Regions from separate parts of the Homo sapiens genome. Here region 2 is linked to region 1. The links come from fine-mapping of genetic effects on gene expression. Tissue or cell type: whole blood. Region 1 holds a variant in brackets; the other region holds the start of a gene. All regions are shown on one strand. Distances are from middle to middle.

Region 1 (8,187 bases):
AGGCACTTTTCTAAGCTTTTTCATTCTCTCAACACCTTGTAAGATTAGCACTAATATCAACCCTATTTTGTAAAAGAGAAGTTAAGTAACTTGCCCAAGGTGAACTCCAATCCCTTCCCAGAACTCTGTAGACCTCTGGACTAGATAAGCTATAATACTTGCATGTTTTAATTGTAAATCTATTCATTTGCTTCCAAACTAAACAACATAGACACTCATTCTGTGTCTGTATCTCTCTTTATCTCTCTCTCTCTGTCTTTCTCTTTCTAGTTCTCTCTCTCTCTCTGCCTCTGCATGTGTCTTTCTCACACAAATTCACCAACATTAAATACCTGGCTTCTGCAGTTTCACCAGTTCCATTTTTGTGCTGAACATTGTTGAAACAGGCTATTCTTTTTCAGATGAGCGCTAAAATGCATTTGATTCTCATTTCCTCTATGGATGATCATATTTTAAAAAGACTTTTAGAAGTGTCAGGTCTTCTCCTTTCTATTATTATCATATTTTAAAATTGGGATCTATACAAAATATAATTTAAATGATCAGGGTACCTGATCTAGATGGAATATTTGTAGTATTTAAATCTAGTTTCCTGTTTGTCATTTTTTAAAATCAGATCTTATCAAGAGATGTGGACCGTGTGAAAAGAATCACTATGGCAATATGGAATACAATGCAGTTCCTTAAAAGCTGCTTCCAGTGGGAATCCACATTAAGAAGTACAATAGCATTCGCGGTAAGCTTCCTTTCTTATGTTCAAACTATTTGCTTCTTATTTGCATCTATTCATCTTTCTGAAATATATTACAGCGTAGGTGATTACGTGGGGGTTGTCTTTCTAAGACAGTACTTAGGTCAAATTTACCTGGGAAACCCCTTAAATTACCCAAATCTTAGTCATATATGGTCTCTTGGTAAATTTAAGAGCACTACTGTTGTATATATATGTTTAAATGTTTCTCCAGTTGTTGTTACAGCTACATTTGTATAGCCCTGCATTGTGTGTATTTTTTTTCTTTCTGTGCCAGTGACCGCCCATAATTTCTGAAAAATGGCATCTGAAAAATCACAGGACTAAATAATAACTGAATTGTTCAATTTACATTTTAAGTAAATTATTCCCAAACTTTGATATTAAAGATGTTTATTCATTTCAAGCCAGTTGGGACATACTGATCATTACACATTGCAATTTCATTCAGCACCGCAAAGAGGAACCACCCCTGTCTATGAAATGTACCCTTTTCTCTGGTGACATTGGCCCATCCTTATGAGCATAATAAAATCGCAGAATCAAAGCGCTGCAAGAGATCTTAAAACCACCTAAGTCTACCACTGAGAGCCCAAGAATCTTGGAAGGACTTCACAGCTGGCCTCATGCCTTCACTTTATATCTCAGGGCATTTTCTCTCATTTGTAAAGGGACTTGTCCTTGATCAAATTGGTAATGTCAGCCATGGGAGGAGAAATCAAGTCTCCCGACTGCAAATCTTTGTATATTTGGTATCATGCCATTCATTTCTGTCCTGTGCAAAGATCACTATAAAAACTAATACGAGGTATGAGTGGTCTAAGAGTGTGAATATCAGTCATGATCATTGGTGAATCTGATTTCTGAATGTTATGTGGTTCTGCTTCTGTTTTCTACTGCCAATATATGCTGAATGTTCTCTCTTAGCCAACAGGCATAGCCTCATATAAAAAATGGGGGAAAAAAAACATTTATTAGCCCAAGAAGCCAATGGGTTCAAGGTCACTCCCAACATTTTTATGCCATCAAGTATATCAGCTCCAAAAGAGGCTTTTCCTTTGCCATTGGGGGGTATTTTGTTTGCTGTCGTTTATTTTAGTTCTCCACTGCTTCGGTGTAGAGGACCTATGCTGCCTGTAGGCTTGACCTTTCCTATACTTTTTCTGCTGTCTGAAGTTGCTAAAACATTTGGCCTTAATAAAAACACTAATAAAGGTTTTATTAATCTGTATCCGTCATTGTCTCAGCATTTGTTTATCCACTTCCCTTTCTCACGTTCTCCTCAGCTGGTGGCTTCATGCGTTGAGTTCCCCTTCAACCTCCCCAGCTCCACTTCCCACCCGAATTCCCTTTCAAAACTTTCCATGGAATGTTCTATGCAATTCTGGGCAAAAGAGGAAAGTGAACACAATTGGTGGCTTCTTCCAGTCAGCACCCAGACAGCCACTGTGAGGAGGAGAGGATTTCCTCTTTCTCGAGTTTAGTTTCTGGCACTGTGATTTTAGAAAAACAGAGATCTGTTGCCCTGGATTCTGTAGGGAGATGACAGAAATGATTAATGGGCTGCTGGCTTGATCTGAAGAAAGATTAGAACAGATGAATAGAAATAGGTTGTCTAATAGAGGGGACTTCTAAACAGGAAGGGAGGCTTAGAAATGGAGCCACTTCTCCACGGCCTTTTCTCTGAGGGATTCCTCACTGCTGAGCTTCATGCCTCGGAGCAGAGCCCGCCCCCACGCTGGAGAATGCAGGCTGCCATGTTGTACTCTCAGATCTCTGAGGCCCACAGCAAGGAAGATCAAGGTGGTGTTCTCCTTGCTGGTTTTCCAAAGTATGATTTTGCAAGGATCCATGGGTATATGCGACTGTGTGTATAGGGACATTTCTCATTGGACACCATTGAAAAAAATGCAGAGCCAGTTAGATACGCTATATACCTACAGCCTATCATTTGGTTGTCCTGAAAGTACTGGAATAAAAGTGCTCACTTAAACTCGTTTTCAGTTTTAATTTAAAACTCTACTTCCAAAAATTTAGACCATGTGTATGTTGACTGGCCTTGGTGATTCTCAGAAATACCGCAGCCATAACGTGGTGGATAATTCCCCTCCCTAAGTTGATGAAGTGTAATTTTATTAAAAGTTGTTTTTTTATTCCTATTATGATTATTCCAAAACCATTTCTGCTATTAAAATGAGAGGCTATACAGAAAATGCTTTCTTGAGACAGAATAATAAATGTATTTCAGTTTCATCTCTTATTTTTTATTGTTTTTTTTTTTTTTTGTGACAGAGTCTGACTCTGTCACCCAGGCTGGAGTGCAGAGGCACGATCTTGGCTCACTGCAACCCCTGCCTCCCGGGTTCAAGCGATTCTTCTCCCTCAGCCTCCCAAGTAACTGAGACTACAGGCACGCACCACCATGCCCGGCTAATTTTTGTATTTTTAGTAGAGACGGGGTTTCGTCATATTGGCCAGGCTGGTCTTGAAC[C/T]TCGACCTTGTGATCCACCCATCTCGGCCTCCCAAAGTGCTAGGATTACAGGCTTGAGCCACCGCACCTGGCCTCCGTTTCATCTTCTTTCATTCTTCTTTTGGTAAGATTATGGGTAGCCAAGCTTTCATGTCCTTTTCTTTGAAAACGCCTTCATTTATGTACCTTGCCTGTAGACCTGTTAGCTGTCTGTAGGGGACTGGATTGGCGGGGCGGGTTGCACACCTAGGGGGCTGCCCTGGCTGTAGTGCTGTGTCCCCGAGTCTGTGGGGCTTCATGATGGGTTGTCTTTCTGCAAAATGTTGGATCCTCAAGCCCAGGCTCTCCTCTGCCTTTCTTCACTATGCAACTGCCATATCTGTCAGGGGTGACACACACTGACGGATGTTCTCCTGTGATCTGTTGACAGAATGCTGCTTGGTGTCTTTATTCGTCATTGTGACACTTTGTTCATGTTCCAACTGCTCGCCTTGGCATGACAGGGCAGAACAGAGGCGCTGTCTGAAGCAAGGTTTTAAGCCAAGGATTTATTAAATGACCCGTAGTCAGGTCCTCTAATTGAAATTAGCGAATGTGATAGTTGAGGGTTTGCTACACAGGTGTGAAAGGAGCTATTTTAGTTGAACCAGTCCCTGGTGGGGCTTTTCTTCTTGTGACAGTACAGGAAGTGATGCTAACACAACAAACTAAGGGCAGAACTGAAGGGATGTGTTTTTCTTCTGTTTTTTGAGAAAACATAAAATATTAACTTTATGTTCTAGACTCTAGCTCCAGGTGATACAAACATGAACATTGCAGAATCATGTTTAATCTATTCTCAATGTCAATTTTAAGACTTTATGAAAGCAAACCATACGTTTTCCATGGATGCCTATGTACATGTGCATGAACATAATCGTATCTTGTTGAAAGCAGCAGTTAAAGAAAAGCAGGCTCTTAAGATCTAGGTCCGCATGGTGTCTCGTCAGAAGTGGATGGACAAACGTGAGAGAACTCACCTTGCTAGATGACCCAAGCATCACCTTCCTCTACCATGCGATTTATCACTGCTACACTTACAGGAGTGGTTGTATTCCCAACATGAGAGAAGAAAGTTATCAGTAATGCACCTGCTATGTTAATGTTGCTGCATAGTGTTGAATTTATTGTTATCATAAGAAATTAAACATGGGCATTTGTAGGGTGGTCAGACCATTCCAAGTCAAGTTTCTATAGACTCAGTTCTTCTTGTTAGGATGAACATTGAAAATCTTTCTCATTTTGTCTTCTGGGTCTTTCTCTTTCCCCTATGTTTTTCAGATATTTTGGTATCTTGCCTTTTCTAAGGTTTACTTAGTTATATTAAATTAAGGATATATTTTTTCTTTTTTCTTCCTTCAGAAAGTAACATTCTTGACTTTCCCATTTGAAAAACAAATTAATATGAGATGTTGACTTAGTGAATGAGGCCAAATAGAACTGAAATATTTTGCCTTGAAGTAAGTGCACCTGTATATTTCCCTATGAATAGATTTGTAAATATATGTGGTATTTTATACACATGTATATACATTTATATACATACACAAGACGTGTACATGGCCATTCCCACACAGATTTTGACTATTTGAACTATTATTCATAGTTCATGTTATTTCAGTGCTTAGACACTGTCCCAAGGATTTTATAAATTTAGTTCTCACAACAACCTGCTGATGTAGGTGGTGATTACTATCTTCTTTTTACAGATGAGAAAAATAAGCCTATAGAGGTCAAGTACAGTGACAGAGCTCATGTGTGTGTATGAGGTAGAGGTGGAATTGAAACCCAGGCCATCTTGCTTTAGTCTGTGCAGGCTTAACCCTTCAGCTATTCTGCCTCTCACTGATGCCCAGGATGCAATGTTTGTTGTCCTTGTATTTACATAGTGACACCGGGACCAACCATACTGATTGTTTCAGATCTGTATTTAGATATTATGTGTGGGGATTAAGCCTGTTCCAAGCTGTGATGCTATACAGGAAAGAAACCCTCATTACATGGGCGAGAATAATTCTTTAGCTCAGTTATTTTATTCACAAGTGATGATGAGACCAAAATTAAAGAAGCCAAACATGGAAATGCCCAGCCCCTGGGCATCACATGCATTTGGCATCCTTGGAATCCAGCTGGATAATTTGAAAAACCCTAGAGCCTTGGTTCTAGACTGAGTCCCAAATTACAGTCTGACTTGTTTTTCCCCACCTTTGAGGAATGCTTTTAGATGATGTAGAGGGATTTTCAAGGGGAGAAGAAAGTAAAAACAGAAAACAACTAGTGGAAGGGATCATGGAAGGCATTGGACTTTTCAGTTGTTTTTTTTTTTTTTTTTTAAGTATTCCAAGTTGTTCAGAAAAGGGATGGGGTAGAAGAGAATAACCACCCCTTATGTTCCTTTAAAATATCTTGAAATAATAGCTATAAAAGAGATAGGCCCATATGTCTAGTGGGGATCTCTATTTTATATACCCAGTGTCTCAGTGCAAATACATTATTTGATCATAATAAAGATAAATTTGTTCTCAAAAGATAACTTTGCATTGTGATATTTATATTGGTAGATCCAATCATGTATGGGTGTTTTGTTATGACATACTTATATTTTATAAACCCCAATGTTGTCTATTAAAAGTCCTAAAGTTATATTATTATATAAATGCATTTTTCATATGTTAAAATATTATTTACTTGACAGATGGCATCATCAGAAGGTGATTTTAAACAGCAAAGTTCTGATGCTTTTAACATAGAATTGCATTTATGCAGTTTCATTTTTCCACCGATATTTCAGGCACACACCTATTGTATCAAGGGAGGCAAGTTTGTGGGGCATTGATGGATTCTTTGCTTTATTAAATTTTTACTTGGATGTTTGATCTAAAAAGTAATCTAAATCTACCATATATCAACGAGTATCTTCATAAAGCTATGATTTTAACATCTGTGACTTTTTTCCGATTTTTTGAGTATAGGGAAATAAAGAATTTACTTTTCAGAGTTGACAAGGACTGAAATATGATACACAAATTAAAGCATCAATCAACCTCTCCCTCAATAAAGTTAAAAAATACAACTGTCCACTCGCTTGGTAATATCCCATATTTAACATATATAGAATTTTTAGCTTTTAGAGATCCTAGAATATTGAGAAAATGTGAAGTAATTTCACATAGAACTTAAAAACAACAGTAGCAGTAATAGAGCCAACCCTTCCAACACACATGTACTTGTGCACACACACACACACACACACACACACACACACACACACACATGCATGAACACGAAGAAGCAGAGGACATTTGGGAAATTAAAAGTTGCTCTGTTGAATGTTTTGTGAAAGCAGTTTAGTAAAAACCAAAGGCAAGGCCTTGAGGACTGCTGTTTTCCATGATTTCTCTGTGGACCGAAAAACATTCAGATTCATTTTGCTTTGGTACAAATGACAAATGCAACACTGTTTTGAGATTCGACTCATTAAATAATGCTGGTCAAATGTCTTTTTGATGCTTTCGATATTTATGTGTTAACTGTGTCTAAAAGATTTACTTTAAGTTCTGTCACCAGTTTACTCACAACGAAATGCACCTGCATTTCATTAAGCTCTTTCATTGGCTATGACATCCACCAGAAGTCACAACTGGATGTGCAGAGCAGACATCGCTGCCCATTTGCTAGGTGTGTGTGCAGTTGATGCTCAAAAATTAAAAGTATTTGTGTAAAGCTGGAAAAAAGAAATTTCAGTTACAATAACCAGAAGAAGAGGGGTTTTAGACATCTTAAAAGTGTGTATATATAAGTGCACACACAGAACCATATACACATATATGCAAAATATATAGGTATATTCAATGCTTAAAATATTTGGCATCTTATGGTTTTAACATATATAAGATAGTTTCCCTAGTCTTCCTTTTCATGAAGGACTACATAATATACTTTCAAAATGTTTTAAAGTTTTTTTCAGCACTTTTTTAAAATAGGAACAATCCATCATTGCATATTGTGAGCATAATTTTTACAACATAATTGCACCTTCTATTGGCAGGTTCTCAGGCATTAACTAATTATGCAATTTAATAAAATTACAGTAATCGCATTAAAAAGATTATCTGTTAAAAATTTAAAAGGACACTATTAACTATTTTAGCATATTTTCATGTTTATATTTTCAATTTTGTGAGTTGTGATTCCAGACAGAATCATAGCTAGATCGACTGAAATCACTTATTCTTTTGGAGCATTCCAATTTTGACTAGTAAACATTAGATCTCAATTATTGTAATCATAGCACAGCCATATTCACATAGCCTGGTAGATGTAAATGGTTAGCTCCCCCTTTTGTGTGTAGGTCCAGGCTCTGCGTGGGACCCTGTGTCACTACCACTGCCTTTTCTGAGCTTTCTGTTGGTGTGCACTTGCAAGCACATATTTTCTGCCTTCTCTGAATTTTCTTTTCAGGATTCTGTGATGGTGAATACTGAATGTCAGCTTGATTGGATTGAAGGATACAAAGTATTGATCCTGGGTGTGTCTGTGAGAGTGTTGCCAAAGGAGATTTGAGTCAGTGGGCTGGGAAAGGCAGACCCACCCTTAATCTGGGTGGGCACCATCTAATCAGCTGCCAGTGCAACTAGAATATAAGCAGGCAGAAAAATGTGAAAACAGAGACTGGCCTGGCCTCCCAGCCTACATCTTTCTCCCATGCTGGTTGCCTCCTGCCCTTGAACATCGGACTCCGAGTTCTTCAGTTGAGGAACTCGGACTGGCTCTCCTTGCTCCTCAGCCTGCAGATGGCCTATTGTGGGACCTTGTGATTGTGTGAGATAATACTTAATAAACTCATATATATTAACCACCAGATGCCAAGCAGAGCTCTACCTCAAGGCTATGATAATACTCAAATATGAATATATATATATTCCTA
Region 2 (8,187 bases), 170 kb before region 1:
GATCTTTGTCTGCCAGTTGAGTCTGTACTTATCTCAATTGTGTAAGCCAGGTTTCACCCATGAAGACTCCCTTTTTTCATCACTTGGGACTGACTGGGGTCCCGGTTTCTGCTGATTCTCTGGTGTATTTTCTACCTGGTTTTTTACACCACTTGCTGGGCTCTGCAGGTGCTACTATCAAGGCCTCTTCACTCTGACACTCTATTGTGTTTATCTGTTTACACATCTAGCGAAAATGTGAGCCATTGGAGGGCAGAAGCTATCATATTTGTGTTATATCCACAGAGTTTATCACAGAGCTTAATATATGGATCAGGGGATTCAAACTGGTTGCCAGGCTTTCGGCCACCTGTATTTTTTAGCCAGCACAGGGTTAACAATAAGTAAATTTGAATGTCTTTAGGTGGGCCTACTCTCTGCTATTTGCCACAGTCTCTATCTTCTTATATGTGACCACAGTCAATCTCTATTTCACCAGTCTCACCCATGTAGGCACCCTAGTTTGTGGTCCTGGTTGTAGATGATGAATACATGCTAATTATGTGAATGAATACATCAATGAATGTACTTCTTATTTTGCATGGAGAATTGATTGTTATCTAAATATTCTTGTCCTGAAAATTCCCCTAGTTTCATCTCTCATTTTGGAAAATACAGGTAGAAAAACAGATAACTGTAATGTGCAATGCACAAATAAGCATTTCTGAATACTTGCCAGAGGTGAGCCACTCTGTGCATTCTAGTGGCTCAATTAGAGAGGAAAACAAATTCAACTGTGTTATTTGCAGAACCCATAAGATGCAAACAAACCATTTGTTGTGGAAAAGCTCAAGATTTTTGTATCTGAGATGAGTGATAACTTCTACCTTGGATCATCTTAAAACAGGCAGTGTAATTTTAAAAAACAATGACCCCGACCAACATGCCAAATGTATGTTCAACAACGTATTTCCCAAGGTAGATTCTTAAGATACCCCCCACTATTGCCAATGACAACACACTAGAGAACAATTCAATAAATGTGATTTGGGGCCACAGAAATTCTCTACAGTATGAACCTCTCCCCTGGCCTAGGGGAAGTTTTAAGCAATTAACTGAATGAAATTCAGATCGTCAGACAAAAATGTTGGTACTGAGATAGTAATCTTGGGCAAAGTTAACCTTCATCTGAAGAAGTAAATTTGGTTCTTCTTTACCCATCTAATGAATGGCAGACTCAGTCTCTTAAGAGTTAACTCCAAGCCTCTAATAATTTTAACTTTTCAGAAGCAACCACTACCAGATGTTCATTTTGGCCATAAAAGTTCCCACCCAATAAAGGTACAACATCCATAAAAGTCGATCTTTGAACAACTTACTACCTGTGAACATTTCCAGCTAATCAGCTTGTGTTAAATACATGTTTAGGTATTTGAAAGAAAAGAACTTGATACATAGAATCATCATTAGGACAATTCAATGCTGATGTTGATTTCCAAAGAGATTTTATAAGAAGTCTTTCTGAATAATTAGAGAATAGGACTCATTTTCTGTTAGGTCCATTCTTTTGTTCAAGAAAGTGAAGCCTACAGGATAAACTCGTAACTAGTAAGTGGCAGAGCTAGGTCTGGAGTGAGTCACTAAATTTGGTCTCTCCACACCTGCCTATAAAAAGGGGATAACATGATAATTATACCAAAGGAAAAAAAATCCTGAGTACATATAATAACAAAGACTATTTGCACTAACAATAAAAGAAGTACCATTTCTCAACGCCACGTAACAGAGTGCATATTCTTCCTTAAAGCACACACTAAAATAAACATTTGTTACTTGGACAATAGACTGAAGTTTGCTTTAACCATTATATTCGTTTTAACCCCTGGTAGATCTAAATTGACATGTTTATGTCTCAGTCATTTTTCTACTTCTGCTCTTATCGGCCCAGAAATGATGAGAAGCACCAACGAAGGAAAATGTGAGGGAAGCTAGGTGCCAAGCCCTTACATTACTGCTAGCAGATCTCAGACAGCTTTCTCTTTGACATAAAGGGACTTGTCCCAGCAAGATTAGCTCTGTGTCCTCCAAATGGAGCCAGACTGTGTTGACTGCATGGCCAACTCTGATAGGATGACCCAAGGAGGCTCCCACTGAGCAGAGAAGATATGGAACTCTAGATCCTATGCATTTACAGACAGGGTCTTGTCTTCTTTAGAGAAGACTGCTTTAACCCTCATTGTCAAAGACTCTGGGTGGCTACAGCAATTTTCATTTGTTTCATTTGAAATACTCTGGCTCATTCAAAAAGGCACAGGGACGTGGCTAGATAACTGCACTAATTGTTATCTAGCCTTTGTATGCACTTAACCGTGCTTCTGCATGTATGACAGGCAGTATAGCCATGATAGCCAAGGAGTACACTGGGCCTTCAGAAGACACATCTTCCATTTACAATTTAAAAGAAGAGGTGCCAATATTAGATTGTCATGCAACCAAACATACATTGTCTAAGATATAAAAGCAATTGTATCTGAAAGTGGGAAATCTCCACCTCAATTATCACATTGACAATAGGGGCATTTCTTCAGAGGCCAAATATCTGGTTGCTCAGAAGAGAGAGAAAGCTGCCTATGATACGTGCAGGAGATTTTATTTTTTTTTAAGTATAATTATGACATCACTGACCAGTGCCTATAATGTAAGACCTGGTTCAAAATCTGTTTAGAGAAATTCAATATAACAAAAGTGTGTTAAAAATTTATCAGCTACATGTATGAGTCCAGTTGCCATTCTAAATGCTGGTGTGGTTATGTAGTAAAGTTAAATTGGTATAAGCAACAATATTATTCCCTGGAAGGGACATTTCCTGGGTGGAACATAGAAAAGGAGACAGGTAATATGTTTGAACAATTAAAAACAAAAAACCCAGGAAGCTGGGCAGATGAGTGTATTGTGGTGGGAAGGGCAAGTTGTGACCTTAGATTTCTGTATCTTTAGTTGTTTCACTTTCTATACCATTTAATGATTGAAAAATGCGGTTGGACTGCCGGAACCACAGAACAGGAACTCCACTGGGGCAGGAGTTAAAGGCAAAAAAGCTTTTGTGTGGGTTCACTTACTATTTTAATTCATTTGTATTCTTAGTCAGCTTTAAAGGTATGATTGCTTCGTCTGCCTACTGCTCTTTCTCTTCTTCCTTTCATGCTGTTTTACCCTTACCTCTCTCTGTTCTCTGCTAGGGGATGTAACCTTCGGCACGGTGGGAAAAGCCAATTTTGCCATAGGCCTCAGCTTGCTCTGACTCGGCTACTAACTTGACTCATAGCTTCAGGCAGGTTATTTCATGGTTCTGATGCTCATTTTCCTCATCTTGAATCAGAGATTTTATTAACTGTCTCCTGGTTTGTGAAAATTCAATATGATCACGTGTTACATGCCAATCACAGAAACTGGTGCGAAGTTGTGTTCCTCAGTGGTAGCTATTGTTGTAAGTCGGAATTGCATGACAGTGGCAGCTGTTTTCTATCACGTCCTCATGTTTTCTAAATTTTTATGCCCCTTCCTCCCATTTCCTACCTTAGTATTGTTAATAGCTAACTTTTATTAAGTGGTTACCATGGCCCAGGACACTGTAATGAGGATTTTATGTGAATTACCTAATTAATTTCTCAGAAAGTATGAGATAGCTATTATTTTAAGCTATTTAAGCTATTTTAAGCTATTTAAACAACCAGTTTGTTGAAGTTAAAATTTAGAGAGGTTAAGTGAACTCGTCCATTTACACAATTAGTTGCCCAGGCAGAATTTGATTTGAGGTCTGACTCCAAAGCCGGAGCTCTTAATCACCAGTGACACCAACTAAACGCTTCATTTCAGAGCTCGCCTATTCCCAGAGGTCCCATTCCCGTTTTAAGGTTATTTTCTGTAACTCTCTTGTATCTAATTTAAAAATGCTATTTCCCAGAGATGAGTCCCTGATCTCCCAGAAGGCATGGATCATACATTTCTTTTCCTAATCCACCCAAATTCCTAGAGCGCACAGACTTAGGCTCGTTCATAGACGGGAAAAGAAACTGACCAGGCAGTGAAACCGAGCAAACAAAGTGCAATAAGACAATTACAGCAGGAAAGCGGCGTAAAAAAAAGTAGAAAAAGAAAGTAAGGGAAAGGGGAAATAAATAGCAAATATTCGCTGAGTGCCAACAATCGCACGGGAGGGTCTTTAGGGTTCTCTGCCGAGTACTCGGGACGGCTTGCTGAGCAGTACGCCGGCCTTATCTCATAGATGAGGCACCAAGGCTCAGGAAACAGTTCTGTGGATCTGGGCGGGCATCTTCCACCCACAGTCGCGCACACGTGGCATAGGTTAATAGGCTGTCTGGCTCGGGTACCTCTTCCCAGGGTCAGGGCGTTACAAAGGGAGGCTGCTGTCTTCCCATGAATCTATTAGGGACCTACAGGAGCGAAGAGAACCCTTCTGAGTATCAGCGAAGACAGCTTATTAAGACTTTACGAGTTTGCAAGCCATCCTCGTCCTATTTCCTCACTTCGGACTTTTTGGACACACCTTCCTTTTCCTGTGAGCCAACCCAAACGAATGAGTTACAAGTAATCGCCTTCTCTACGCCCAGCCAGTGCCCAGCACCAAGCATAGCGCCTCCTTGCAACACCCGGCCGAGCTCCCGGCGGCAGCGCGGGCGCTTGGGTCGGAGGCTGCTCAAAGGTGACGCGCGGCCGCCTCCTCCCCTTTAGGCGGGGCTCGCAAGGGCGGTGGGGGGGCCCGAGGAAGTCCGGGGGCCCTCGGTGATGCCCCCGCCCCCGCCGCGTCAGGGTTGCTCCCTGCGCTTCCGAGTGGCGACTGCAGCGGGTCCGGTGCAGGTGAGGGGCGCGCGCCTGCCCAGCTTTGCAGCCCCCGAACGCGGCCTCGCACAGGTGAGGGCGGTGCCGGGTTCACCTGGCAGCGCGCGTGGGCCGGGCAGCACGGTCGCCGCCTGGGGGTGGGCGTCTTCTCTCAACCGAAGCTGGGAGTTGGGGAGCTGGAGGGTCCAGGATGAGAATTCAGTGGCGCTACTACCCCGGAGCTGCTTGTGGTTCAGAGATCAGAAAGGTGTCCTGAGGACTGGAGGCAGAAATCCAGGCGTGGCGTACTGGAAGGCGCACTAGGGGAGGGCAGCCTGGCCCAGAATTTCTTTGCATTTTAAAGGCCACACATTCAGTCTCCCCGGGGCGCTACGGAGGTAGTCACCGCCACATCCAGGACTCCTTCCACAGAGGTCAGTTCCTCAGCTGGGTGGGCTTTAATACGCTCTCTTCGTAGAGACCCGGAGGTTCAACTTTAATTCTTTGCGCTGACATTTGCTCAACGACACCGGAGCAGAAATCCTTGGGATAATTGCGTAGGTAACAAACAGTGTCTCAATCCCACTGAAGATAAGTAAGTTAAAAATAAAGACAGTGATGTTGGTGGTGAACTTGAGTGGCGATTAGTTTCCGCAATTAGTTCCCTCCTGCACTGTCCATTTGTTAAGCAAATGTGCTGACGGCTTTTTTTAAATGATTGGGTTGCCATAAAAGAGGTTTTCTCTAGTCTGAATGAACTTCTGTGCGATGCTGACTGAGGGTTTCAGCCTCCTCTAGATGCTTACAAGAGCTTGGTCTGGAAGGTACAAGGGTGCGAACCCTTAAGGTACCAAGCAGCTTCTCAGTGAACCGTGAGACGTTAGAACACTTGCTTCAGGACGCACAGAATTCAGACACCACTTATTGAAGGATTTGTATGGATTATAATTTACATTAGCATTCATTTTTTGCTTGAGTCAGTAGCATTTCAATTCAACAAATATTTATTGTACACCTGTTAACGGGCAGACCTCTGAGAGCCGGGCTGGTGTGCTGTTGGGTAGCACAGGTGTTGATATTAATACAAAGGGGAATCTTAAGGCACTTATTCCTCACAGGTGGGTGTTTAGAACGAGACCAATGGTGCTGCGCTTTGCCTCAGCAGCACCTGTGTAATCGCTGGTTATAAGTATTTAAATGCAGGGAGAATGTAAATCTTTGAAGAGTCTCTGTCATTAGCCTGATCAGTCATTCCAAAGCAATAAAAATTGTCAAAACCATGCTTAAAATAAGATTATTAAGAATTAGCTCTGTGCCAAGCACCATGCTAGGCACTTTGTCTTGTCTATGAAATCTACAAAGTAGATACTATTCCCCTGTGCAGATAAGGAACTGAGGCAGAGAGGAGTCCAGTAATTTGTACAAGGTCAGTGGTGAATTTAGAAATTGCATGTGGCTATTTCTGAGTGCAGAACTCGTACTTTTTCACTATTCCATGCTGTCTCTAAGATGGAGAGTGTAAATCCGGCAGATTTAATATAAGAATTCAAATTTATATTCATAGATCCTATCTCCTGGGGATTAATGGAGTTAAAGTAGTCCTCAGGAATGAAGTGAGCACTGTTTTCATTGCACTTGTGTGGTCAAGCTGTGACCTATCTGTGACTAGTAGATGTAGCTTTAAAAGATAAAATTTATTATGTGTCTTAACATATTTTGAAAGGCCTTTCAAAATATGTTAAAAGATAAAATTTATTATGTCTCTTAACATATTTTGAAAGGCCTGATATATCCAAACAGGGCCAATTAATAAAATTGCATATATATTCTCTCTGTGTTATACATGGAAGGAACAGCTAATTTCCTATTATTGGTGTGCTTTACTATGGTCTCCTCCTGCAGAGGTGAGTTTCTCAGCTGAGTGGGCTTTGAAATCAATTTCAGCTTGATTTCTTACAGCTGCAAGATGATTAGCGGTCTCTTGTCACCTGGAAAGGACTTTGTGTTTGTGTAAACCTGTGCTCACACACGAATATATATTTTTCCTTAAACCTATTTCCAGAAGTACTACTTCTGGAAATTGTAGAGTACTGCAATGTGATGATCTGGCGAGGAATCAAGTTCCTTATTTGACTTTTGCATAAAGGATTTATAACAACTGACAATTTCTTTAAGTGCATGTAAACCAGGAAAGTAATTTTCAAATTAAAATTATTATACTGTGGAGAATGGAAAGTGAGTGAAAAATAGTACTCTGAATTCAAATAATATTTCTTGTTGTGGAAAACACTTGCTTTCTTAAAACTTTTCTTGTAATTGTTGGTAATTACACACAGAAATGGAAGGGGTTTTATATTTAAATTACCTTGAATTGTTGCCAGTTAACTGTTGAGAAAAGGCTTTGCCCGTGAAGCGAGGATCAGGTAGAATATTTTGCCTGCGTCAATCTTGGCACAGATTTTTTTTTTCCCTCTATCTTCACGTGGAGGTGAAACAGCCAGACACCTTAAACTCCTCTTTAGGAGCTGAGCTGTTAAGTCCTTCCTAGAAGGTGTTTATAAAAGTGTGCCTGACCTGGTAAGGTGTTCTCATGGGGAACCAGGGTGGGTGATGAAGGAGGAGAGTATGTAGGGGATATGAAGCAGGGGCAGTTCCAAGTTTTGTGAGGCCTAAAAGGTAAACAATTTGGAGACTCTCTTTAAGAAAATTAATACAAAATTAGGTGTGAAAGTGAATATGTATTTAAAATGAGAAAAAGAGATGATAATTTACTGGAGATTTCTGCCTGTTTCTGTGGAGATCTTGGGCAATTTACCAGAAATGCTTACAAAAACAGGAGTGCTGATTGCAATCCGGCTTCCCCTCTCCCTGAGAACACTCAGCATTTCCCAGCAGCTTGTCACACCCACGGGGGGCCCTGCTAGTGAGAAGCCCAAAGTTGAAGCTCTGTTACCCTCAAAGAGTGAGAGGGAAAGTTGTGGTTAAAGGCAAAGGACTCATGCTCCACTGAGCAGAGAAGAGACTGCTGGATGGGACAGCAGAGACACTCTGGACACTCATGTCCAACGAACAATTCTGAGAGCTGGTCTTCAAGACTTTCCAGGTTGGTTTGTTTCTCAGGGATGCCTTTGGCCATTGGCTTTTCCAACTATCAGTCACCATTTATTGGGAGTTTTCTAATGTCCCAAGTCCTGAGTAAGGCGAAGTCCTGATTGTCAAGAACTCCCAGTCTCATGGAGCTGATTTCATTGATCACAGTGCTTTGTTATAGGCTTGCATAGAGATGCCACAGGGGCCTTGGAGGGTTCCTGATGGCTTGAGCTGAGTTTGGAGTTACTCTGATGGAGTCCAGGAGGGTCATTCTAAGTG

What was found. PIP is the estimated chance that this variant, and not a neighbour inherited with it, causes the effect.
Region 2: it holds the start of MCTP2, and the variant in region 1 is fine-mapped to the expression of MCTP2 in whole blood (TOPMed, PIP above 0.99).

The regions. Positions count from the first base shown.
Region 1 is chr15:94,401,284-94,409,470 of GRCh38, forward strand. It overlaps MCTP2 (multiple C2 and transmembrane domain containing 2), which reads left to right. Exons shown (of 23, transcript NM_001385001.1): 17 at 617-736. Among named protein-coding and RNA genes, the nearest start is that of MCTP2, 170 kb to the left of the region's middle. The variant C/T (reference allele first, on the strand shown) is at 3,243.
Region 2 is chr15:94,226,754-94,234,940 of GRCh38, forward strand. MCTP2 (multiple C2 and transmembrane domain containing 2) reads left to right here and starts at 4,808. Exons shown (of 23, transcript NM_001385001.1): 1 at 4,808-4,911. RefSeq lists an enhancer at 3,063-3,202 and a silencer at 4,738-4,867.